Linked DNA regions of Homo sapiens: regions 2, 3, 4 and 5 are each linked to region 1. The links come from fine-mapping of genetic effects on gene expression. A gene starts in region 1. Each other region holds a variant in brackets. All regions are shown on one strand. Distances are between the middles of the regions. Region 1 holds the start of JARID2 (jumonji and AT-rich interaction domain containing 2). Region 2 overlaps JARID2 (jumonji and AT-rich interaction domain containing 2). Region 3 overlaps JARID2 (jumonji and AT-rich interaction domain containing 2). Region 4 has its middle 26 kb from the start of JARID2-DT. Region 5 overlaps JARID2 (jumonji and AT-rich interaction domain containing 2).

Evidence for each region.
Region 2: its variant is fine-mapped to the expression of JARID2 in whole blood (TOPMed, PIP above 0.99).
Region 3: its variant is fine-mapped to the expression of JARID2 in subcutaneous fat (GTEx, PIP 0.99).
Region 4: its variant is fine-mapped to the expression of JARID2 in whole blood (TOPMed, PIP above 0.99).
Region 5: its variant is fine-mapped to the expression of JARID2 in fibroblasts (GTEx, PIP 0.92).

Annotation. Positions count from the first base shown.
Region 1 is chr6:15,243,067-15,248,066 of GRCh38, forward strand. JARID2 (jumonji and AT-rich interaction domain containing 2) reads left to right here and starts at 3,003. Exons shown (of 18, transcript NM_004973.4): 1 at 3,003-3,518. The coding sequence starts at 3,474. It overlaps JARID2-DT (JARID2 divergent transcript), which reads right to left and starts at 2,308. Exons shown (of 1, transcript NR_187237.1): 1 at 857-2,308. JARID2-AS1 (JARID2 antisense RNA 1) reads right to left here. Exons shown (of 2, transcript NR_120502.1): 2 at 4,749-5,000. RefSeq lists enhancers at 1,118-1,631, 2,821-2,870, 2,981-3,080 and silencers at 1,631-1,940, 1,951-2,210.
Region 2 is chr6:15,378,770-15,383,769 of GRCh38, forward strand. All of the region lies in intron 2 of JARID2 (jumonji and AT-rich interaction domain containing 2), which reads left to right. Among named protein-coding and RNA genes, the nearest start is that of JARID2-AS1, 130 kb to the left of the region's middle. The variant G/A (reference allele first, on the strand shown) is at 2,917.
Region 3 is chr6:15,499,333-15,504,332 of GRCh38, forward strand. It overlaps JARID2 (jumonji and AT-rich interaction domain containing 2), which reads left to right. Exons shown (of 18, transcript NM_004973.4): 8 at 1,575-2,077. Among named protein-coding and RNA genes, the nearest start is that of DTNBP1-AS1, 44 kb to the right of the region's middle. The variant T/TGAAG (reference allele first, on the strand shown) is at 2,190.
Region 4 is chr6:15,216,909-15,221,908 of GRCh38, forward strand. No RefSeq gene overlaps it. Among named protein-coding and RNA genes, the nearest start is that of JARID2-DT, 26 kb to the right of the region's middle. The variant G/A (reference allele first, on the strand shown) is at 2,752.
Region 5 is chr6:15,437,369-15,442,368 of GRCh38, forward strand. The region is part of intron 3 of JARID2 (jumonji and AT-rich interaction domain containing 2); the gene reads left to right. Among named protein-coding and RNA genes, the nearest start is that of DTNBP1-AS1, 110 kb to the right of the region's middle. RefSeq lists an enhancer at 1,522-1,591. The variant C/T (reference allele first, on the strand shown) is at 2,740.

The DNA of each region.
Region 1 (5,000 bases):
ACTCTGCCTTTTTTTTTTTTTTTTTTTTACTGAGCTGTGAGCTTCCTGTGTCCTCAGGGATGAGGACAGTGCTGGCATAGAGTCTAATACAATCAATGTACCTAGACATGTTCTCATCCCTGCCCCTCCAATTGAAGAGGTCAAGGCTTTGAGATGTGAAAATCATCATAAGAAAAGCTGCATTTGACTTACAGAAAATGAAAAAGAGGAGGAAGGAGCAAGAAAAGCCTTGGATGGTCTTGCCAAGATGGTAGGGGAAGGAAGTTCATTAGGAGTAGGTTACTTTCACAACAGGAAAATCTTTCAACCACTAAGAAGGCCAACCTTTTTTCTCTTTCAGGGAAAACAACACTAATATTATTCAAATCTTTTGGAAATGAGCAAATTCCTTCCTTTCCCCTCTGCCCTGAGGCCTCAACTTTACACAATAGTTTTTCACACCAGGTGACCTGGAGCTGGTAGCCTGGCAGGGGAGTTCGCAAGCCCAGGACTGAGAAGTCCAGGCCCCAGGGCTAGTTAGGGGAACAGAAAAGAAACTCACCTTTGTTCATTAATATTTGCCTAGGGAATGAGGTATCTGCGTTAAACTTACAGAAAGCTGGTTAAAATCTTAACAACGTGGAGACGTGGAGATTCCCAGTATGCCAGTCCTAATGATCAGAAAGTTTTTAGAAAACACCTTGGGTGGCCCTACTGTAGTCTGCCCCATTGGATCCTTCCCAGGAAATGGCACCAGCGTACAAGTTTTGCAGTATTCAGGGCACAAAAGATCATTTATTTTTCCAATTGTGAAGTGAACATTAGATAAAATTATTTCATTTCAGATTTTTTGAAAAGGTAAAAATAATAAGGAAAATACCCTCTCGAAAAGGCTTTTTATTTCGTTTACTGAAAGCTTCCAATAACGTGCCTAGTTTTAAACTAGGTTACTGTTATTTATCACATAATCATCCCCACAGGTTTGATCACCACTAATTTGCAGATGCGGAAACTGACAAGCTCAGAGAGGCTCTCGGTTGCCTTTTGGGAAGTGGCCAAGGCGCGATTTGAATCCAGGTCTCTTACCTCCAGTTTCTGAGACCTTTCTAGACACCAAGGTTATCTCTTCAAATACTGCTGCAAGTAAACAGCTGTGTGAGTATCTAGACTTTTGAAGTTAGCAGACTCTAGGGAATAGGTAGAATAAAATATATGGGTATGTGTTCGCGGGAGCGCTTCTGCCACGTTTTATTCCGAGGCTAGCCTGAGAGATCATGGAAAACATTGCTTCTCCAAAACCACAGCGAAAAACAAGGAAATTAACAAGGCAGAATCGCGATGCGAGACTTGACAAAGTTGTTAATAAGGCGAAGGCCCAAAGCGCTATGCCAGGGCCTGCTACTTCATTTGTTTCAGCGATTAAACCAGCACGACAGGGGGCTGGAGGCAGGTAAAAAGCAGGCTCTTGCGTGGCCCGGACAGTTGATATTCCTGGCACTCGGTGTTCGAGATGTTTCCTTACAATTGCGTGTCTGTGCGGCTCGGTCTCCATATTCCACTCATTTTTGTCTCAACATTTTGTGGTATTTTATCACAAAATACGCCCGGCAAAGCAAAGATCCCGTTCAGTCTCTTTAAACACGGCTATCTTTTCTCAGGAGGCAGCCGCCGGGGCTTCACTCCTGGGCCACCAGCGACGTCCTCCAAGCGGGTCGAGCGGAGGCGCGTTCGCGACCCAGGGGCAGCGTGCCGAGCCCGGGCGTGGGGGGGCGTGGCCTTTCCACTCGGCGACCCCCGGCCACCGCCCACCCCGCGCGTGGGGGCGTGCGCGACTGCGGGGCGCGGAGAGGGGTGACCTCGGACTACCCTAGGCGCCCGCAGCACGCTCTGTACACAGACGCGAGGCGCTGTCCTGAGGTGACACCGGCTGCACGGCACAAGCAGCAGGCGCCGCCGATCAACTAGTTCGCACCGAGGATTCCTCTTGGTGCGTGGCCCAGTTTTCCTTAGGACGGGCTCCAACCCCTCCCTGACACCGCCCCCCTCACCGCCACGCTCCGAGGCCTTCCCCGGGGAAGCCTCGCGTCCCTCCCCCGCGGCTCCGGGCCGCACGCGCGCGATTCCTCGATTCCACAGGCGGTTCGCGCCGCGGGTGGGGGCGGGGCGCGCGGGGAGGGGGCTGGCGGCCGCCAGGGGAGGGGGGCCGGGGCCCGGGGGGCGGAGGAGGGCCGGCGTGGGGAGTTCCTCGCTCGCGGACCACACGCTCCGCGGGCCAATCCCGAGCCAGCCTCTAGCAGTGTCGCACGCGGGACACGTCCAAGCGTTTGTTGGCACGGCCAGTGAGGGGGAGGGGGCGAGGAGGAGGGAGGGGAGTTGAGTGACAGGCTTTGCGGGGCAGGCTGGGAATTGTAGTTCCCAGCTTCCGTGGCCATAGCCATTTTGTAGTCGGGGGACTACAACTTCCAGAAGATCAAGGGGACCATTCTAAGGTGCCCCGGGAATAGGCGGCTCTCCCCGGGGCCGGGCGTCCTGGGGCACTCCTACCCAGCAGCCCGGCTGCAGGTAGACGCGAAGGCAGTGGCGGGGGCTGGCGTGGGGCGGCCGTGGGGTGAGCGGCAGGCAGGGGAAAGGGGGTGAGGTGGAGCGACGGAGCGTGCCATGCATTGAGCTAGGGAGCCTCTCTCAATTCCACGCCTGGGCTCGGCGTGGGAGCGACGCCCGAGGGCTTGCCTGGGAGGGGTTCGTCGAGGTCGCTCGGGTGTCTGGTTGGCCAGGCTGCGGGGGTGCCCTGGACTGGGCCAGGGGCGGTCGGCACCAGGCTAAGCGGGCGCCTGGCGGCTGAGCGGTGGGAGTTTTCGGCTGGCGCCCGGCGGGGAATTATCCGAGGAGCCCTAACTTGTATAAAAGCAGAGTCCATTTAAAGTTGGGCTGGATAGCCTCTCTCTCATTGGTTAGGGGGCTTGGAAAAAAGAGACTCGGCGAGCCCTCGCTGTGGTGCTGCCGCCGCCGCCGCCGCCGCCGCTGGAGTTGACTCTTCTGCTCGCACTGCTGCTGCAGCACAAACGTGACTTCCAACATTTTTTATTTATCTTTCCCTTTTCTTTTCCAAGATGTAACTACGGATCAGACACTAAGGACCTTCACGTTTCGCTGATGTAGTTTTTGGAGGAAAAAGGGGGGGGAGTGAAGGGCGTCGGTTTTTTTTTGTGTGTGTGTGTATGTGTTTCGGGGGAAATTTTCCATTATGAGTGTTTTACTAAAGTGAATTTTTTTTTGTTTGCTTCGTTCGTCTTTGGCTCTTTTTTTTTCCTTCCCAATTTCGGATTTATTTCAAGGCGAATCTGGCTTTGGGGGAAGAGGAAGAAAAGTCGGATTACAAGATCAACCACCACCAACAACAATAAAAACCACCAGGATATTTTTTTGCAAATTTCTGACGGCTTTAAATTCATGAAGCAATTGTCCCCTTTTGCAATCAGCATTTGGATCTCAGAATGAGCAAGGAAAGACCCAAGAGGAATATCATTCAGAAGAAATACGTAAGTGCTCCTAACAACACATCCTTTGACTTGCAGTTTTAAGCAATGGCTGTGAATGTCAAGTTTATAGATAATTCTGCCTCTGAAGGGTTTTAAACACAGCGTCCGATAAGGCTGTTTCTTTTTTTTCTGAAAGAGGGCTTTTCAAGCAAAGTGGTGTCTGCCTAGTTTGGTTGAAAAAACAGACTGGTGTAGAGATACCTCAAGTGAATAAATTGACCTCGAATGACACAACCATAATCTACTTTTAGATGAAAGGCAAGGGATTTTGGTGGAGCTTGAGGTGGGGGGTGGCTGCGGTAATGTAACTAAACTGCATTCTCAAGCGGATTTGGCCCCGTATTGCACTTTGCATGCAAATGAGCCTGTGTTATTATTATTAATGTTATTTGGAAAAATCGTGTAACGCATGTGTGTTGGAAGCCCTTTAAGTTGCGATCGAGGGTCCGATTATGGCGATCTTCTCTTTGCACTGGCACATCAAATTTAATGTCTGTGGTCGTTTTGGCTTATCTGGTTTGCAACATAAACCAGTTGGGAATCATGTTACAGCGAATGCATTTGTTGGGATTGACTTTAATAATGAGGCTGGTTTTGTTTAAAAAATTCATGGTTTCCAGTTGTAGGGGAAAAGGACACACACTATGGCTAATGTTTTTAAGTGTGTACGTGAATGCATATGTAAGTAACTACAAATAATTTCTCCCTGTTAACTGGGCTTCTGAAATTGGGTGATTATTCCTAGATTTAAATGGCTTGGAATAGTTAAATTTGTTTTGTGCATAGTACAGCTACGTTTTGATTGGCATGGGGAGTGTTTTTGTTTTGTGTGTGGTGGCTTTTTTTTTTTTTTAAGTTTGAGGGGAGGGAGGAAAGGGGGACCGAGGGATTAACCAAATATGCACTCGAGTGATCTGTGATTAGCTGCATGCTTTAAATTAAATAACTCTTTTTTTTTTTCAAAAAAGGCCAAATGAACATACCTTAGGAATAATGCAACGTAAGAGGAAAGTTTATTTAAGTTGGGTAGACAAATTGGTGTTAATATTTTCCCTTTTTGATCATTGTGGTGTGTGTAATGAGAGATGACCTTCGGGGCACTGGTTTTGTAAAAAAATATATTTAATGGAAAAGCTGAATGCCTCTTCAAGAGAGCTGATCCTTATCTAGACACGTCAACTTCAACTATGAAAGAAATGCAAGGTTAAATAATCAAGCCCAACTTAGAAAGCTGTTCCATAAAGAATTTAAGAATTAAAATACATCCGCATTGCAGAGGGCTGGGTAGAATGCAAAGGACTAGTTTAAACTCGGGCTGTAGAAACTGCACTGAGGCAACCTTGTCTTGGAGCGTGGACGCCTTCCCGGGGCACGTCCGTTTCGGATGCAGCCACAAAGCAAATGGGGTAGAACTTGGACGAGAACCGCACCCCGCCTCCCATTCCGGACCTCGTTGAGGTGGAGAGCAGCGTGGGGTGGGTT
Region 2 (5,000 bases), 140 kb after region 1:
AAATATAAATGGATGATTGGAGGCTTTCCTGGGAAAAATCATTTGTTTTTACCATAATATTTAAAAATAACAGCAGAATGGATTTTACAGAATTTTTATCTAATTTGAAAATAAAATACATGTGACATCTCCTGAATCATTGGCATCCTGGTGTGATGAACAAGCAGCCCTTTGCCCTTCATCTGTGTGAAGGGGGTCGGGTATCTGATGCCTGGGAACAGTGTGTGGACACTGCAGCTTGTATCTGAGCAGTGAGCTCAGCTGCCCTGGTTCTGTAGGTCTGTGAGTAGTAATAACCTAAGCAGACATAAGATAGTGGAGACACGTCGTTTTTCATGTCATAAAATCCATGTTTGCTATCAGTCTTGTTTTTGTGGTTTTACAGTGACAAGGAATGAATTTTTTTTTTTTTGGCCCTACTATTGGTAGGATATGTGAGTTTTGAACAGCCTCATGAGTTGTCTGTGTAGCAACTGATGCCATCGTTACAGCTTGTTGGTTATTGCTGGGCTTAAGCGTGAAGTGGTAAGATTTGCTGATTGTGAGCCTTCTGTCTACTTTTTGTTGTAGATAATGCCACTTTTCATGGATGTAATAAATTGACAAAAGCTTTGGAAAGGACTGGCAGAGGCTGAGACCTTGGCCACTCTTTGAGGGCCCTTGGCCTGCTGAGGCTAAAATTAGGGACATTTAAATAATAACATGCTACACAAATAATGAGTACACAGAATTACACAGTCAGAGAGGGAAGCTATTAACTGTATTTGAATTTCATTTGCTTCCTATAAATGTCATCTTAGATCAAGTCCTTTGGCCAGCAAAACACTCTTGATGAGATTTAAGGGACCCTGGATTCATTTCCTTAAACTTACCCCGGGCAGTAGTTGTGATGGCTAGCCTACCTTGAGTTCTCACTATTTGCCAGTTATTGTTCTAGTACTTTAGCTGTATTTAACTCATTTAATCTTCAGAACAAGCAATTTTATAGGTGAGGAAACTATATACTAAGAGTGGATTAGCAATTTGCCTACCCAGCTATTAAGTGGAAGCATGAGGATATAAGACCAGGCCTTTTGGATCAGACCTCCCATGCTTTCTGGATTAGAGCTCCCAAGCTTGTAGCCACCACTTAGATAAGGAGAGGTAATTTTGGAGCCTTTCATAAAGATAGCATTCCAAAAATAAGAATTTGTAGGAAGACTTTACTTTTTTTAAGTAGGTATTTATTTGGAAGGAGGTAAGTGGATTTTTTTTTTTTTTGGTCGGGGGCCGGGGGTGAGGGGATGGAGTCTTGCTTGCTCTGTTGCCCAGGCTGGAGTGTAATGGCGCAATCTCTGCCCACTGCAACCTCAGCCTCCTGGGTTCAAGTGATTCTCCCACCTCAGTCTCCCGAGTAGCTGGGATTACAGGCATGTGCCACCATGCCTGGCTAACTTTTATATTTTAGTAGAGAGAGGGTTTCACCATGTTGGCCAGGCTGGTCTCAAACTCCTGACCTGAGGTGATCTGCCCACGTCGGCTTCCCCAAGTGCTGAGATTACAAGCGTGAGCCACCGTGCCTGGCCGTCAGTAAGTGAATTTTTTATTGGGAAAAAGAACCTTGGAAGGCATGGTAAGTATTTATTGACTGTGTTTCTGGGCTTTATTTATGATTTGTAATTGAATTGATAGAGGGTATCAAAAATGTAGACTGTGAATTGGTTTCCTCCTCTCTTCAGTCAGACACACAGATGCATCCGTTAGTTTCCATTTCCTCACTTAGAGTTTTGTGTTTTTAATGCTGTTGTCGTTCTGGCTGGCTGGAACTCACTGGACGGATGGTGCATGGATGTTTTGGCAACAGCTGCCAATTTGTAGCCAAGGACCAGTATTGGAAGCGCAGATGTGGGACATTGTGTAGCCAACACCCCCCAAGCCCCCTTTAAGAAATATAATTTTGAACTCCTTTCAGAATCTTTCAGTCATTTCCAAAGATTCTTGATGTGTGTGGAATGAAATGTGGGCCCGACTGTGAATTCATTGTTAACAAAATATGTTCACACAAGTCATAAAAACGTATTTGTGAATCAAAATAAAAAAATGTCAGGTCACATGGTCTGATTTACGTAAGTTTATTTGTGGGCCATATTTGAAATGAATGTCTGGGGTATAAAGTGACCTTCCTCTACGAAGGGGAACACCTGTCCCTTCTGTTTTTGCTGGAAACTTTCAGGTCTAGCTGTACTAGAGATGGTGCCTACTTTATCATTATCATTTATTATTATTTATTATTATTATTTTCTTCTGAAGACAGTGGCTTATGGGCCGGGCGCGGTGGCTCACACCTGTAATCCCAGCACTTTGGGGGGCCGAGGCGGGTGGATCACGAGGTCAGGAGATTGAGACCATCCTGGCTAACATGGTGAAACCCTGTCTCTACTAAAAATACAAAAAAAAAAAATTAGCCGGGCGTGGTGGCGGGTGCCTGTAGGCTGAGGCAGGAGAATGGCGTGAACCTGGGATGCGGAGCTTGCAGTGAGCCAGATCGTGCCACTGCAATCCAGCTGGGGCGACAGAGGGAGACTCCTGTCTCAAAAAAAAAAAAAAAAAAAAAAGTGGCTTATGCTTCAGCTTTACCGAAGTGTTGATGTCTGTGTGCTAGTCTCCTCCTCTGCAAGCTGTAGGGAGACCAGTTGCAGCTTGAGTTTTCTCTAACACTCCTGTGTCCTGGCCTCCAGACTTTTTTCTTTCCCTCTCCTGTTTCCCCTGATGTGAGGACACACTCTGCATGAAAGAAAGCTGGGTGAAATGAAGGGCTTCAATGTTGTTGAAAACAACTTATTTTTTGTTTACAAAGGAAGCTACATTTGTTGTGGAAAGGCGAGAAGGCTTGGGCTCTTTGTCTTTCAGCTGCTTTTTTGATGTAGTGATGTAGGT[G/A]GGGCATTTCTCAGATTTTCATTTTGTAAGTGTTGGAGTTTTTATTATGTGGGAGGCATTGTGGGTATAAAAACTGAGATCAAGTTGCTTACTTTGGTCAAGTCCTAATACCTTATTTCATCCCTTCTAAGATGTCATTGAGTGATGCACCATTATGTTATGTATCAGTAAGCAAGAACAAAACAGTGCTTCCAATGATGAATGTGGGACAGCTTAATTATGAGATGCATGTTTTAACATGAGAAAAATAGATGCAACTTAAAATCTGTGAAGCAGGATAAAATACTGTAGGATAAATGCTTTAACAACCAAATGGGGCTGGGTACTGTGGCTCACGCCTGTAATCCCAGCACTTTGGGAGGCCGAGGCGGGCGGATCATGAGCCTGGCCAACATAGTGAAACCCCGTCTCCACTAAAAATACAAAAATTAGCCAGTCATGGTGGCGCACGCCTGTACTCCCAGCTACTCAGGAGGTTGAAGCAGGAGAATTGCTGGAACCCAGGAGGCAGAGGTTGTGGTGAGCCAAGATCGCACCACTGCACTCCAGCCTAGGCAACAGAGTGAGACTTTCTCAAAAAACAGAACCAAAAACCCCAAACGAGTGTATGGGTGAGTGCAGGAGGCTAGCAGGGAGGCAGATGATGTCAGAGACCCAGTCCTAAGATACAGGAAACGTTGTATATCCATGAGCCTTGCAAAGGGGTCTTGAAAGATGCGAGAGATTTCTGAGCAAGACCTTGGGGTGGCAGGGGTCAGCAAATATTTGACTGGTCTGTTGGTGTCATAATCTAGTGGGACAAATGGCTGCAATGGCCGGTTTCCGTGGCCAAGTCACTTGTACTGGTCTGATGCCAAAGGAGTGGTGTGCAAAATTAAGGACTGCTAGAGCAGGAAGAGTCTTTTTAGAGGTATATAGGTCAAACTCATCATTTTACAGATGAGGAATTTTGAGCCTTGATGAGAAACTTAACTGGAAGGAATGGATCATGCTGAAGCCTGATTGGAACCAGAAATCCAATTTAAGTGACAGTGAGGCGCCACGCTTCCTAGTAGGCATGGCTGCTTGCACGCATTTCCTGGAGCGTTAAGAATGGAGGTGCCTGAGGAGGTTAATGTGCTCCTCTTTCGGGTCACTTTGTGCTTGACACCCACTGCCCCTCTCTTTCTCTCTGCCCGCCTCCTTTGTCAGTTCTGTGAGCTGGGCTCTGTTTCCCTGATTACATCATCATTCCCATCCAATCCTGGACGACTTTAGGAGGGACACAGCACTCAGGTAGTGTCACCTGGGTAGTGGAGTCTGTATGTGTAGGGCTATAGGGCGGAGGAGGTGGTCTGTGTAGGGAGACAGAAGGGAGGGAGAGCAGTCTGAGCTCTAGTTGGGCCTGTTTGCTACAGCCTATTTGCTTTTGCCAGTTTTTATAGGAGTTCAGTTTCAAAGAAGTGGGGAAGGCAAATGGATGGAAATTTGTTGTAGTCTAGAATTTTTTTTTTTTTCTTTGAAACAGGGTCTTGCATGTTGCCCAGGCTGGCCTCAAACCCCTGGGCTTAAGCAGTCTTCCCACCTCACCTTCTGAGACACTGGGACTACTGGCATGTATCATCATGCCCAGGTTGGGATTTTTTTTTTTTTTTAAGCTGAAGCTCTTTCTATAAGGGTCTCTCTAGTTTCTTTGCGGATGAAATTAATAACTCCCCCTCCATGACATCACACTGGAAATTATCCCTCCTTCATCATTTACCTCTCTTTACTGGTTCATTCCCACCATTGTAGAAACATGTTCTTATTTTTCCCATAATAAAGTAAAGCCTCCCTTGTTCTTGCATCTCCTGCCTGCTGTATCTTTCTCTTAGTTTATAGCAAAATCCCCCATAAGAAAATGTCTAAAAGGTTTGTCTCCATGCCCTTCTATTTATATTCATATTAATATCCCCCAGCCTTCCTTTGCCATTCACCTTTAAACCCCTCACGTTGGGCCACTTATCAAGGTCAGTAATGATTGCCCAAGCCACATTTCCATTATTCTGGGGTGTAATTGCCCATTTAGCAGCATTTACCGTGATTGAACATCTCCTGAACACCAC
Region 3 (5,000 bases), 260 kb after region 1:
GGGGAAGGGGCTCGGCCACGTAGCAGCCTCAAGGCCCTGAGTGGGAGTGATCGCAGCGGATGAGGATTCCATGAAGAATTCTTGCAAGCGCTGTGTGATTTTCAGGTGCTCTTGCGTTATAATCTACTTAGAGTGAAATATGAAAGTGTGGATTTCCTCCCTTCTGTGACCTGTGTTCTGAGTCACTCGGACGGTGGAGGACTTGTTTTGGTTGGGGGACTCGTTTTGGTGCCTACCTCTGTAAGTTGAGACAGTACCCACCTGCCCTCGGAGGAAGAACTCCCGATTGTCAGCCAGAGCCACCGTGAGTCCCACCTGTGACTCTGGGAGTCTGTGAGACCTGGAGTTTGTTGTGGAGTCTCAGTTCTTAGGTCCCTCCTGTCGAGGCTGGGGACAGTTCCCTCATGGATGTTACCCCAACTCCCCTGTTCTCCACAACCACATCAGTCCACTGTCCTGCCATTTAGTGTGAGTGGAATTCAGGCTGCTGTGTCCCCATCCCTGGTCTTGCTGGTGTGCTGGGAACTCGCTCTCTGTGTGTGCTGTGTCTGCCGAGGTGGTTCAGACGCTTCACCTAGTGGGTCCTGTCATGCTTGGTATGTGCAGCGACCCTGCCTGGACTGGATCCGTGCACACTTTACCTTTTATTACTTAAAAACAATATATCCCCACACTCTAAAGATTTAAAACGTTGTTAATTTGTACTTTGTTTAGTATTTTGTTGATGGTTATTTTGGAAAATCTCCCCTACCCCCCTTCCTTTATTTGGCCCGAGGGAGGTTGCTTTCTCCATTCCCATCTAGAAAAGCCACTGGGCGCGCGTTAAAACCTGCCCAGGTTTGATGTGCATTTGCGCTGCTCTGTGGCCTGATCAGGAGGGGCACTGAGCACCAGCTTATGCACTGAGAAGCAGCCCGCTGTCTGGATGGGCGAGGGACGAGGCATAGATGTGCTGCCCTGTGTCCTCACGCAGGTGTTGCTCTTTGCTCTGGAAATCCAGCAGGATGGAAAATAGACTTCCTTTGTGTGAGTGAGTGGGTGGATGGGTGAAGTTGAGTGAGTGAGTGGGTGGGCATTGGGAATTATAGAAGGGGAATTGGGAGTTGGTAACAAGCATGTGTCAAAGCTATTCTAGGTGACGCTGGGCCGTGGGTGCAGCCAGGACCCCTACCCACTCCTCACCAGGGAGCTAGTCTTCTCATGACACCCGCCTCCATGTGACAACACATGTACCAGTACATGGTACACTGGGATGTTCCTCCCTGTATGTCTGTCTGGCCAGCTCGCATCCTTTTCCAGCCAAGCCCCAGCTTAAATGCTGCCTCCTCAGACGCTCCCCACCTAAAATGGTAGTCCCTCGTTCCACCTGCTCTTCGTAGCAAGTGGTCATGACCCATCATTTTGTAACGCCCTTCTCTCTGTGGACCGGGAGTCTGCTGTTCACCACTCTCACCCCAGAGCCTGTCAGAGTCCTGGCTCATAGTAGGAGTTCAAGAAGTACAGGTTGAATGAGGAACATCTTGTTCGTGTCTCTTTCACTAACTGTCCCGTTTTTTTCCCCTTCGCTGTCCCAGGGGGCTGTGAGCTCGACCTGGCCTGCTTTTTCCGGCTGATTAATGAGATGGGCGGCATGCAGCAAGTGACTGACCTCAAAAAATGGAACAAACTAGCAGACATGCTGCGCATCCCCAGAACTGCCCAGGACCGGCTGGCCAAGCTGCAGGAGGCCTACTGCCAGTACCTACTCTCCTACGACTCCCTGTCCCCAGAGGAGCACCGGCGGCTGGAGAAGGAGGTGCTGATGGAGAAGGAGATCCTGGAGAAGCGCAAGGGGCCGCTGGAAGGCCACACAGAGAACGACCACCACAAGTTCCACCCTCTGCCCCGCTTCGAGCCCAAGAATGGGCTCATCCACGGCGTGGCCCCCAGGAACGGCTTCCGCAGCAAGCTCAAGGAGGTGGGCCAGGCCCAGTTGAAGACTGGCCGGCGGCGACTCTTCGCTCAGGAAAAAGAAGTGGTCAAGGAAGAGGAGGAGGACAAAGGCGTCCTCAATGACTTCCACAAGTGCATCTATAAGGTAGGGGCCTCCGCAGAGCAGCCACTCCCAGCTGCAGGAGTGCGGGAGGAATGAGAGAGGAAGTGGAGCGTGCTATGCACTGGACGGTGTGTTCTCTGATTCCCTGGGGTGA[T/TGAAG]GAGGGGGCGGGCCACTGTGCTGGGTGATAGCGCTGTATTAGTCCTCTCGTGTTGCTGAAATACTACAGACTGGGGAATTCATAATAAACAGAAATGTACTGGCTCCTGGTTGTGGAGCCTGGGAAGTCCAATATCGAGGAACCTAGTGAGGGCCTTGTGGGTGCGTTGATGGGGCAGCAGGAGACCCAGTGAGGGAGGGGAAGTCCACTCCACGAAGATACCACGAGTCCATTCCGCCTGCCTAGGGCCTCGGGTTTCCTTTTCATTAACTGGCTTGCGTGTGCGTGTTGCATGCACGTGCACACATCTCCATATGCCAGGGATAAGTAACTGGGCTGCATGCTTCGTTTCCCCTGCTTCTCCAGTTCCGTTTCATCCTGGTGCTCGACAGCTGCCCAGATCCAGCTGAACTTCTCACTGGCTGGACCGTCAGTGGACTCTGTGCGCTTGTTTTCTCTGTTTTCTATCCGCTCACCTCACTGCCAGCCCAGCGTTGCCAGGTCCTCTCTGTGGAGAGCTATCCCTGATAAAGCCATCAAAATGAATCTCACCATTCACACGCTGTGGAGGGAAGAGCTGGGGAGAAACCAGCAAACTGAAACATGCAGCGTTTCCCTGTCTCCGCCAGGTCTCCCGGCAGCACACTCATCCTGAGGAGACTCGCCCCTCCAAGAAGCAGGGGAGGCAGAGTCCGTGGCTCTCCTCTTGGCAGCTCTCCCAGCTGTCCTGGCTCTGAAGCAAGGCTTGGGGTTTCCTCCCTTCTCCAGCCTGCCAGTGGGTAGCGGGGCACCCGGGGCCCAGCTGGCCGAGCTCAGCTAAGTTGAAGTCTCTGCTGAGTTTCCCGGCACAGACTTGTCCTCTGTGGTCCCAGTTCTGGATTCACTGGAAGGGAAGCGTTCTCTGCTCCAGCCCTCGTGAGCCTGGTGGGAGTGTGTGGCTAGTGGGTTTCGGCAGCATTGGGAATTGGCTGTTGGTTATCACTAAACACCACCATACCCTCAGGTGCCCACGGCTGCCTGACTGCAGGCTCTGGCCTGGCCTTGTAGTTGAGGCAATGCGGGCTTCTGATACCATCACACATCTTAGAAATACGGAGGAAGGGTTGACTTGACTCCTGGCGTTGCTGCTTCACTTTAAGTCCAGGCCCTGCAGACCCGCCTCAGGCTGCATCTCATGTCCTTGCACACTTCTCTGGAAAGAGGTACCCAGTTTTTCTGGCCTGAGACCCTGAGAGGGTTTGGCTCCCTTTTATCTGAGTCTGCTCTCCCATTGCCCAAGGCTGCCTGGTGGGGATGCGGTGTGGGGGTTGCTGGATGCAGCCTGCCAAGTGTGACCCAGAGACTGTAAGCTCTGAGGAACTTTATTTGGTGTTTCCTGAATGTTTTACTGAGAAGCCTTTGTCAAGTAAAGCCACTCAGTGAATCCTGTGACTGAATAGCCAACTGGTGAAATGAGAAACTGTCAACGTTTTTACTTTTTACTGAAGGAGGCCAATTCTGTGAGCGTATGTTTGATTCAAATAAGAGGTTTGGATTTGTTTAAATCCACCCCGTCAAGGGTATTTCTAGATTTCATCACGGAAATATAGTGGAGCTCTGCGTGGTGGCCATGGCGAAGCCCCCAGCAGCCGTGTGCCCACGGGTAGGGACCGTGAGCACGCAACTCTCTGTGGCACCGGTGTCCTGGCTGCTGACTTTGGTCTGCTGGTGTCATCCTCACCTCCACTCATTGCACTCTGCCTTGGTGCAGAATTCAGTCCCTCCTTTTTTATATTTACAAGAAACAGACTATCAGGAGCGGCTTGGAATTTGCATGGAAGTACGTTCCTGTAGTTAGAACCCCATCTAGTTCCTTTGCTGCAGGAGAGAAAGGCACAAGCCAATGTCTCCATGCCGACTACGACTGTGGACCCAATGGCAGAAAGCATCTGCTGCTCCCTGTTGTGGCCCTATCACTTCTAGGGGGACGCTGCGGTGTCCAGTGCTCCGCAGGGAAGCCTTCCCTGACCACCCTCCCCCACTCTACATGACACCTGGCACCTCCTCCCATCCCATATTTGTGTGTTTGAGGCCTGTGTCTTCCCCAGACTGAATGGAAGCTCCTCGAGGTTTTGTGTGTTTCATGCACTGCTCTGTCTCCAGCCCCTAGGATTTGACCTAGTACACCATAGGTGCTCAGGAGATATTTCTGGACTCAAGCAACAAATGTGCCCGGTCAAGTAAGAAAGAAATAGCAAGGGTCTTAGATGGATTCCCTCTGAAAAACGCACCACATTTCGTGTGGTAGGTAAAAGAAGGTGCTGACTCCGGATTCCCAAACTGACTCAGCTGTTTTATCAAAGCAAGCAAATCATTCTGGAAGTTATTGGGAACAGGGCAACAGAGGGGCATCGAAGAAGAGGCGCAGAGGGGACAGCAGGTGGTTCTGTGGAGAGAAGGCGACCAGGTCGCAACCTCAGTGAAGGCTGCTGCCCTGGCAGGTGTTAATATGGCAAGGACTCTCAGGGTGTAGATGTCGCACCAGTTTCTGTCTCTCCAGCTTCTCTCCTGTGGGATCCCTGGTCACGAGTTCCATCAGGTCATAGCTGCTGATAGCTTCTCCGCTGGCCCGCAGCAGCCTTTGTCAGCTGAGGGATTCTGCCTCCAGCACAAGCTGCTTTTTCAGCAGAGCCTTGGAGGGGCCTTCCGCGCTTCTGCTGTGCGTCCGCTCAGGGCCTCTGGGCGGCAGCCTCTGTTCCTGGCAGAACAATTTGGCCCTCATGGGGTTGATCCTTGGTGGAGTCTTCCCACTCCTCTTGGCACTGCGGGTTC
Region 4 (5,000 bases), 26 kb before region 1:
AAAAAATTACTTAAGAAACGTACAAATCTTAAGTACAAATTTCAGTTACTCAATAAATTGAAACTTCTTACTATTATCACCACTGTATGGGGCAAAAGTAGCAGACTAGTCAGTCAGTCATCAGTGGAATGGATCCTACTTGACTTGTAGTACTAACCAGCTATATGACCCTGGACACTCATACAACCTTTGCTTTCTTTTTTTTTTTTGAGACGAAGTCTCCCTCTGTCACCCAGGCTGGAGTGTAGTGGCGAGATCTCAGCTCACTGCAAGCTCTGCCTCCCAGGTTCACACCATTCTCCTACCTCAGCCTCCCGAGTAGCTGGGACTACAGGCACCCGCCACCACACCCGGCTAATTTTTGTATTTTTAGTAGAGACAGGGTTTCACTGTGTTAGCCAGGATGGTCTGGATCTCCTGACCTTGTGATCCTCCCGCCTCCGCCTCCCAAAGTGCTGGGATTACAGGTGTGAGCCACCATGCCTGGCTAACCTTTGCTTTCAAACCTGTAAAACAGAAATACAGTGCCACCACCTCTTCTACTCATCTCTCAGAACTGTGATGAGACGCGAATGAATAAGAGATATGGAATCCCCTTTCAGAAAGTAAAAACACTTACAAAATCAGGGGATTTTTTTCTTCCCCACATTGACAAATATTTGGGTTCTTTGGGAGTTTTTAACATATGGGTTAATTCAGAGTTACAGATATAGATTTTCATAAATTGGGTTTCTGAATTTCCAAAGTTAAAACTATAACCTCAGACAATGTATCACTTCAAGGTTTCATTTTATCCCAAGTCATATCATCATGAACACCAATTATTGTCCCTTTGGAGACAGCTGAGATAGGAGAAATTTAAGAATCAGAGCATATGAAACAAAGCTTTTAGAAGATAACATCTGCTGGGCAAGATCAGGGATGATATAAGGGAAGAATAAAAATTATGAGTCTTTCTCTAACAGTCCAAGCATGAAAAAATAAAGATAAAAATAAGTAAAAATTTTAAAAAATGATCAAGTCCAAAACGAATATTCCATAGGTTTTTGGGTTTTTTTTGAGACAGTCTCACTCTGTCGCTCAGGCTGGAGTGCAATGGCAGGATCTCCGGCTCACGGCAACCTCCACCTCCCGGGTTCAAGCAATTCTCCCAGCCTCAGCCTCCCAAGTAGCAGGGATTATAGGCACCTGCCAGCACGCCTGGCTAATTTTTGTATTTTTAGTAGAGACAGGGTTTCCCTATGTTGGCCAGGCCGGTCTCGAACGCCTGACCTCAAATGATCCACCCACCTTGGGCCTCCCAAAGTGCTGGGATTACCGGCATGAGCCACTGTGCCAGGCCCCTCATTAAGTCTTGAGTAGGAATAAACCTATCCCAGCTCTGAGGCATAGACCTTAATTGGCATATATAAATCAGTTTAAAGTTACCTACTCCTCTGCCGCAGTAATTGGGTGATGTATGGATAATAATCTAGACCCAAACCAGTTAACTCGTAGTATTTGCTTAGAGTAGTTCAGGGATGAGCCAATCACTGTCAAAGTACAAACTGGCCTGGTGCGGTGGCTCAAGCCTGTAATCCCAGCACTTTGCGGGGCCGAGGGGGCGGATCACCTGAGGTCGGGAATTCGAAACCAGCCTGACCAACATGGAGAAACCTGACTCTACTAAAAATACAAAATTAGCCGGGTGCGGTGGTGCATGCCTGTAATCCCGCTACTCAGGAGGCTAAAGCAGGAAAATTGCTTGAACCGGGGAAGCGGAGGTTGCGGTGAGCCGAGATCGCGCCGTTGTACTCCAGCCTGGGCAACAACAGTGAAACTCCGCCTTGAAAAAAAAAGAAAGAAAGAAAGTACAAACTGTTGGATGATTATGGAGAGCAGTGCTTTCTCCCCTTTCAGAGTAAGCCCTGGTTGCTGTAGGCGACAATCTTGCAGAGGAAGGAAGCCTGCTGAAGACAGGTGAACCACAGGTGGTGGGGGCTGGATCACAGGTGTGAGCCACCACACCTGGCCTATTCCATAGTTCTAACCTTCATTCAGTTGGCTAGTCATTCATTTATCAAATATTAAATAGCACATGCTGGCCAGGCGCAGTGGCTCTCACGCCTGTAATCCCAGCACTTTGGGATGCTGAGGTGGGTGGATCACTTGAGGTCAGGAGTCTGAAACTGGCCTAACCAACATGGTGAAACCCAATCTCTACTAAAAATACAAAATTAGCTGGGCGTGGTGGCACATTCCTGTAATCCCAGTTACTCAGGAGACTGAAGCTGGAGAATCACTTGAACCCAGGAGGCAGAGTTTGCAGTGAGCCGAGATCTCGCCATTGCACTCCACCCTGGGCGACAAGAGCAAAACTCCGTCTCAAAAAACAAAAACAAAAACAAGACTAGGGCATGTTAGGCTGGGTGCGGTGGCTCATGCCTGTAATCTCAGCACTTTCAGAGGCCGAGGTGGGTGATCATCTGAGGTCAGGAGTTCGAGACCAGCCTGACCAACATGGAGATACCCTGTCTCTATTAAAAATACAGGCCGGGCGCGGTGGCTCACGCCTGTAATTCCAGCACTTTGGGAGGCCAAGGTGGGCGGATCATGAGGTCAGGAGATCGAGTACATCCTGGCTAACATGGTGAAACCCCGTCTCTACTAAAAATACAAAAAATTAGCCGGGCGAGGTGGCAGGCACCTGTAGTCCCAGCTGCTCCAGAGGCTGAGGCAGGAGAATGGCGTAACCCAGGAGGTGGAGCTTGC[G/A]GTGAGCTGAGATGGCGCAACTGCACTCCAGCCTGGGTGACAGAGCAAGACTCCTTCTCAAAACAAAAACAAAAACAAAAAATTAGCTGGGCATGGTAGCTCATGCCTGTAGTTTTGGCTACTCGAGAAGCTGAGACAGGAGAATTGCTTGAACCTGGGAGGCGGAAGTTGCAGTGAGCTGAGATTGCGCCACTGTACTCCAGCCTGGGAAGTTGAGACTCTGTCTCAAAAAAAAAAATTAAATTAAAAAAAAAAAAAAAAAAAACTAGGGCATGTTTCAGCTATCTATAGCTGTGTAACAAACCATGTCAAAATGATGCCAAAATCTAGTGGTTTAAACACTTGACAGAGATGGGTCTTCCTTCCTCCAGATGGTGCTCGCTGGAGTGGCTTGACAGGCCTTGGAGAATCTGAAGTCACTGGCAGAATGTTCACTATGACTTCATTCACTTCTCTGATGCCTTAGGTGGCTGCAATGTGTGAAGGCTGGCTGGTCCCCTGCATCTTCACCTGATCTCTTACCATCCAGTAATCTGGCTCAGAGCCTCTTTTTTTTTTTTTTTTTGAGACAGGGTCTTGCTCTGTTGCCCAGGCTAGAGTGCAATGGCATGATCTTGGCTCACTGTAGCCTCAAACTCCTAGGCTCAAGCAATCCTTCTGCTTTAGCCTTCCAAGTAGCATACAGGTATGCACCACTACACCTGGCTATCAGACGACTTTACATGGCAGCTGATGGACAAGAGAAGGAAAAGGAAGTTGGGCTTCTTTTTTTTTTTTTTTTTTTTTTTGAGATAGAGTCTCGCTCTGTTGCCCAGGCTGGAGTGCAGTGGTGCCATCTCGGCTCACTGCAACCTCTGCCTTCCAGGTTCAAGCGATTCTCCTGCCTCAGCCTCCTGAGTAGCTGGGATTACAGGTGCCCACCACCACGCACAGCTAATTTTTTTGTATTTTTAGTAGAGACGGGGGGTTTTACCATGTTGGCCAGGCTGGTTTTGAACTCCTGACCTCAAGTGATCCACCCACCTGGGCCTCCCAAAGTGCTGGGATTACAAGCATGAGCCACCATGCCTGGCGAAGCTGGGCTCTTAACACCTGGGTTTAGAAGTCCCAGAATATTACCCTCACCACACTCTGTTGGTAAAAGCAATTTACAGACCCAGACTCAAGAGGAGGGGATCCTGCACCAGAGCTCCCCACTCTAAAAAAAAAAGGCGGGGGAGAGGAAATGGATTCCATCCGTTCCTGTTCACAGAAAGAATAATTTGTTGGTGGCTGTCCTCACAGATGATCCACCGAAGTGCTTAGCTAGGATTGCATGGTGGGAAGACCAATCTTTTCCCTGGGGAGGATGGATTGTAGCCAGGCAAGAGGCAGAAAGACCAGTTTGGAGGGTGTTGCAGTGGGACAAGTAATAGTTGAAAGTCTAGGCTAATGAAGGTCTAGGTTAAAGAAACAGAAGTGGATGGGTTTGAAAGGTGCTTTATAAAAAGAAAAATCGCCGGGCGTGGTGGCTCACGCCTGTAATCCCAGCACTTTGGGAGGCCGAGGCAGGCGGATCACAAGGTCAGAAGGTTGAGACCATCCTGGCTAACACGGTGAAACCCCATCTCTAATAAAAATACAAAAAATTAGCCGGGCGTGGTGGTAGGTGCCTGTAGTCCCAGCTACTCAGGAGGCTGAGGCAGGAGAATGGCGTGCACCCGGGAGGTGGAGCTCGCAGTGAGCCAAGATCCCACCACTGCACTCCAGCCTGGGCGACAAAGCGAGACTCTGTCTCAAAAAAAAATAAAAAAATAAAAAATAAATAAATAAAATAAAATAAATAAGAAGAATCAGGTGACTGATTGGCTGTTGGTGCTAGGGAGAATATGGGGAGGGAAGAGCCAAGAGGGACACCAGTGTTCCTACTTTCATTATTATTATTATTTTATATAAAGATGGGGCTTTGCTACATTGCCCAGGCTGGTCTTGAATTCCTGGACTTAAGCGATCCTCCTGTCTTGGCCTCCCAAAGTGCTAGGATTACAAATGTGAGCCACCAAATTCAACCCAGGGTTCCTACTTGATTTCAGAGCAGCTGCCCTTTGTTCTGTCAAATCCCTACATAACAAAGTCATTTTTATTCCTAGATGAATGTTATTTTTCAGCAATGCTTCAACTCTGCTAAGCAAGTTCTTTAGGTGAGGTTAGCTTGACCCCAAGAAATCCAAGTTAAATTTATTGTGCTTAAAAAGGGTCAGTCAGGGAGA
Region 5 (5,000 bases), 190 kb after region 1:
TGTCCAGCTGAATCACACCATGAACCCTTGGCCTCAGCTCCTTATGCACTGTCCTTTACGCTTACATTGTGGAAGTCCTCCCTTAACCTAGTTAGTTACTAGGGTTGTCTATCTGCAGTGCTAGTTTGTGTAACATTCTCTGCTTTTAAAGTTGTATGACATAAAAAAATAGAAGAAACGTATTTTAAAAAGAGGAACTTTTTCTCTACCCTCTTAAGTTCAGTTTTGGGGAGCCTGCTAATTAAATGGATGAAAGACAGATTAGCAACAGGGAAAAAAAAAACAGATTTAGTTGAGTTCACAAAGAAATGTGACTCTAAGAGGAGGTTAGAATTTACCATCCTAGAATCGCTTGAACCCGGGAGGCGGAGGTTGCAGTGAGCTGAGATCACGCCACTGGACTCCAGCCTGGCAACAGAGTGAGACTCTGTCTCAAAAAAAAAAAGAAAGAATTTACCATCCTAATGGGATGTGGGGGGCAAAAGGGCGATTCTGGGAGGACAAATAAATTCTTAGAAGAGGGTGGAGAAAGGCCACTTAAGAAGAACAAGTGAATTTTTGGAAAGGTAAGTGGGCCCTTAGCAGAATAGATAGAAGATAGAATATTTTTGTCAGTGTCTGTTAGTATTGTTTTCCAAACCCACACAGGTTTAATGTCTTGGGGCCTGTTCTGGGTATGAAGTTACTATGGCTGCTTTTTGATGGTATTTTGGAAATGGGTTGTGGGGTGGTGGGATGGGGAGGAAACTTGAAGTATCCAGCTGGAAATGTTCTCATTTACAAATTGCTGGAGGAGAAGCCTCAGCAACCCTTCCCAGGACTGATATATGGCTGGGAGTGTGGAGTTTGGCAGTGGATTGACACAGTTAAAGATGGATGCCTCTTTGATCAAAGGGAGACCATTAGGGCATGTTGAGGCTGGCGGAATCGGAAAGTTGCATTATAAAGAGGGTAGTTATGCATCCCCCCTCCCAGTGCCTGTCACCCACATCTTTATGAACATGATTCTGCATTTGCCCAGTTGGCTGGCATAACATTCTGCTGAAGTCAGCAGTGAGGGAGATGTACGTACGTAGCTTTTTTCATCTGTGAATTGCAGAGCGTAGAAGGATGTAGTTCATTTCCATGATTCCTCTGCACGTCATTGTTTCTGACCAATGTGGACAAAATGTGAGTATTTTTCTGACAATTCCAACTTCTTTGTTATTGTGGTTCCTCCTGGCAGCCCCCGCTTTAAAGATCCTTTAGGCAAATGTTATCCTTTCTCTTCAATGGTGGCTTGCCTTCCTGTGGTGGGGGCAGCATAGCTTGAAAAGAGCTAGGAAGCAGTTTCCCTCCACAGTATCCTTCTATCTGCTCCATTGAAATCCCTTACTGTGGCCATGCTCGGTGGCTCACACCTGTAATCCCAGCACTTTGGGAGGCCAAAGCAGGCGGATTGCCTGAGGTCAGGAGTAAGAGACCACCAGCCTGGGTAACATGGTGAAACCCTGCCTCTAGTAAAAATAGAAAAATTAGCCAGGCATGGTGTTGGGTACCTGTAATTCCAGCTACTCAGGAGGCTGAGGCAAGAGAATCGCTTCAACCCGGAAGGGGGAGGTTTTAGTGAGCTGAGATCACGCCACTGCACTCCAGCCTGGGTGACAGAGCAAGACTCTGTCTCAAAAAAAAAAAAAAAAAGGTGTGGGGGGTGCTTTTTCTGGTTCAGGCAGTGGAACAGGGGAGAATGAGGCAAACCCAGCTACAGTGCCTCTCATAGGAAGCATCACAACCATTAATTACTCCTGGTGCAAGAGGACTCAGTGAAGCTAGGTTTGAGGTTGGGGTAAAAGATAAGATTTTGGACATTGCTCATTTAAGAAGTTTTTAGCTGAAAAATCTTATCATTGGCTGCTTTCATTGTTGGAGGTTTATAAGCCTGTTGCATGGATCTCTATCCTCCTCCTGTACTTGCACCCCTGCTGTTATGTTTTATTAGGATGTCGTGCAATTTATTCTCCCGTTTCTTTCACTCCTGGTTATACTTTTGATCACCCTTCCCTCTGTTTTGTAATGCCATCCAGAAAAAATGAACAGATAGTGAGGCTTTGTGAGGAACCTACGATGGATATGTGGCTGCAGCCTTCTTTGGAGGGTTTAAGCTGCACTGAAGGAGGCTGACCTTGTGGCTTTATCATTTCCTGTCTACAGACAAGGAAAATGGGCTTAAGCAGGAGGGATTAATGAAGGACTTAATTGAACAGGAAGTCTTTGTCTTTTAGCCCTTCAGAATTACACACAGCTTGGGTGTTTTTATCTTGAGTCCTGTTTAAGAGATTGGACTTCTTTTCTCAGGATGTTTCCGGAAACTGAGTGGGGATCAGAAATTGTCATGGAGTTAAAATGCTAAAGAAGAGGGGTAACAAGCCAGCTTCATTGGATGAGGAGAAGGGCTTGTTTTGATTTCCTCATTCTTCCCAGTCTCACCCCTGGGAGTTTCTGCTACTGGCTTGGCTCAAAGCCTTAAAAACCCATAGAGTACTTTTATAATGTCACAGCAAATGCAAGCATGTTGTCTCTGGAAAGGAACTCTGAGGCACATGTGTTAAACCAGCAATGCTGTACCTTTAGCAGAGTGTTGTTGGTTCCGTGCCTGAAACACAGATAACATACTTGACATCAAGACCCCTTGTGAATCAGAGAGAATGACTTTACCTTCTTGGAAACGTTTTGACTTGAGATGTAGTCAGAAGATATTCT[C/T]GTCCGACCCTTTGAGGGTTCATTTAAGCCGTACGCAATTAGATGAACATGTATGTCCTGCAGATACTCACTGCTCATCTGTTGTCCACTGCCGCTGTCTACATATGTGACCTCTTTCAATTTAGTGCACATTCTTGACATCAGGTGGATTCACAGCTTGCAACAGCGGACTGGTCCTTGGCTGATAAAAACTGGGAGGACTTTCATGTTGTACTGAGGCGAGGTGTCTGAGGTCATGGAATGGTTATTAAGATTGTAATCGAGGTAGAATATTGTGAGTTGGAAGGTTTGGGCTGACCCCTTTGCATCCTGCCTCCCAGCCCCTCAGGTCCCTCCCTTTGGTTTGATTCAGTGATGCCATTTGGTTTCTGTTTTGTGGCCTGAAATATGGTACCATGTGCAGTGTTGAATGTTGGGAAAAATTTAAGGCTGCTTAAGGGATATTCTGGGTATTGTTAGAAAGGAAGTTGATTTGCTCACCTTGCCCTGTTGCCCACTTTCCATTGGCACAGTTTCTTTGGGTTGTATTTAAATTTTTATTCCACTAATGTGTCTTCTAGAACTGTTACTACAGCCAGTGACATAGATGCTCAGACACTGTGTCTGTAATAGCTCCGGTTTTTAAGTGGGAGAATGTGCCGTTGTTTCAGCATCAGAGAGCTCAAACAGTCAGAAGGTGGAGGAGAATTAGTTTTCCTAAAGTTCATTAGCTATTAGCAGATTTTTTAAATTATGATTGTGTTTCCTTATCTTAGGCATTTTTAACAAATGTTGTCAGAGACAATGTGTCAGTTATAGTGAATCCTTTTCTTACAGAGCAGACTTCACTCCGCATTTTTGTTGGTGATAGTTTAAGTAATGCCCCATACTTTGAAAATCACAAATGATTAAGGTCCAGGCAACTAAATAAATTTCTGTCAGAGCCCCAAAATGTGGGTTTTCTGATACTTATCAAAAAAGGCTAGATGTTGTGGGTTTTCTGATACTCAGAAAATGTGATAATCAGAAAATGTAGGTTTTCTGATACTCACCAAAAAAGGCTAGATGCTGTGTGTTTTATCTCTAGCCATGTTTCTTGGGATCTAAAATAGCTGGATTGTATATTCCTAGATGTTTTCCATACAAGAACTTTGGGGTGTAATGAGTTGGAGGGGTGAGATGGTATTACTAATAGCGTTGATAGACCTACTTTCTGTAAATAGTGGCTGGGTTCTTAACTGGCACCAGATTTTAGTGCAGGTCCTAAAAATTGGCTAATACTAGTGCTTGTCATAATTTAGCATTCCTTTTTTTCCCCTTAGGGGTGATCCCACAGCTGGAGTGTAAAGACTCGCTATTGCCATCTATTGGTGCATGCTGGCTACTTCATAAGATTTGCAGTGGGTGGGGAAATTGCCTGGGATCCCTTTTCTATTTGTTACCCTTTAAATGAAGAAAATTTCTGTTAGTGAACTTACTGCATGAGAGGGAGGACATGTAAGATGCCAGAGCCCACTCTGGTCCTTCTGGGACTTAGAGGACACTCTGAGTGCCGCCTTTGTGCTTTGGTCTGTCGTGTGCTGAATGGATGGTTAGGACCTCACCTACCGCACAACTCCATCTGGTATGATATTTCTGGTGGGAAGTTTCTGCAGCTATCTTAGAAGCATTCCACTGGATTTTCTTTATTTATTTATTTTTATTTTATTTTATTTTATTTTTGAGATGGAGTTTTGCTCTTGTTGCCCAGCCTGGAGTGCAATGGCACGGTCTCGGCTCACTGCAACCTCCACCTCCTGGGTTCAAGTGATTCTCCTGCCTCAGCCTCCTGAGTATCTGGGATTACAGGCGCCTGCTACCACGCCCAGCTAATTTTTATATTTTTAGTAGAGACCATGTTAGTCAGGCTGGTCTCAAACTCCTGACCTCAGGTGATCCCCCACGCCTGGCCTGGATTTTTATTTTTTAATAAGCTGTATAGCATTGTAGAATACAATTTCTTCTTATATTTCTCTTGCATTTTGAAAAAAAAAAAAGGAAGTAAAACAGGATTCTCGCCTCACAGGGTCATTCCCTTTGCCTTTCCAAACATGCCCATTGCCAGGAGAGTTCTGGCAATTTGCAGTTGGGTGTTGAGTAATCTAAAATTGAGAGACTGCTAGGGTTTTTGTTGAAATGATATTTTAAAAACTAAATAGGGAATCCCATCGAGAGATAGTAGAAAGGCAAATTAACATTTTAACTCGCTCTTCTAGGCTTTTAAAACTGAATGTACTTAGATA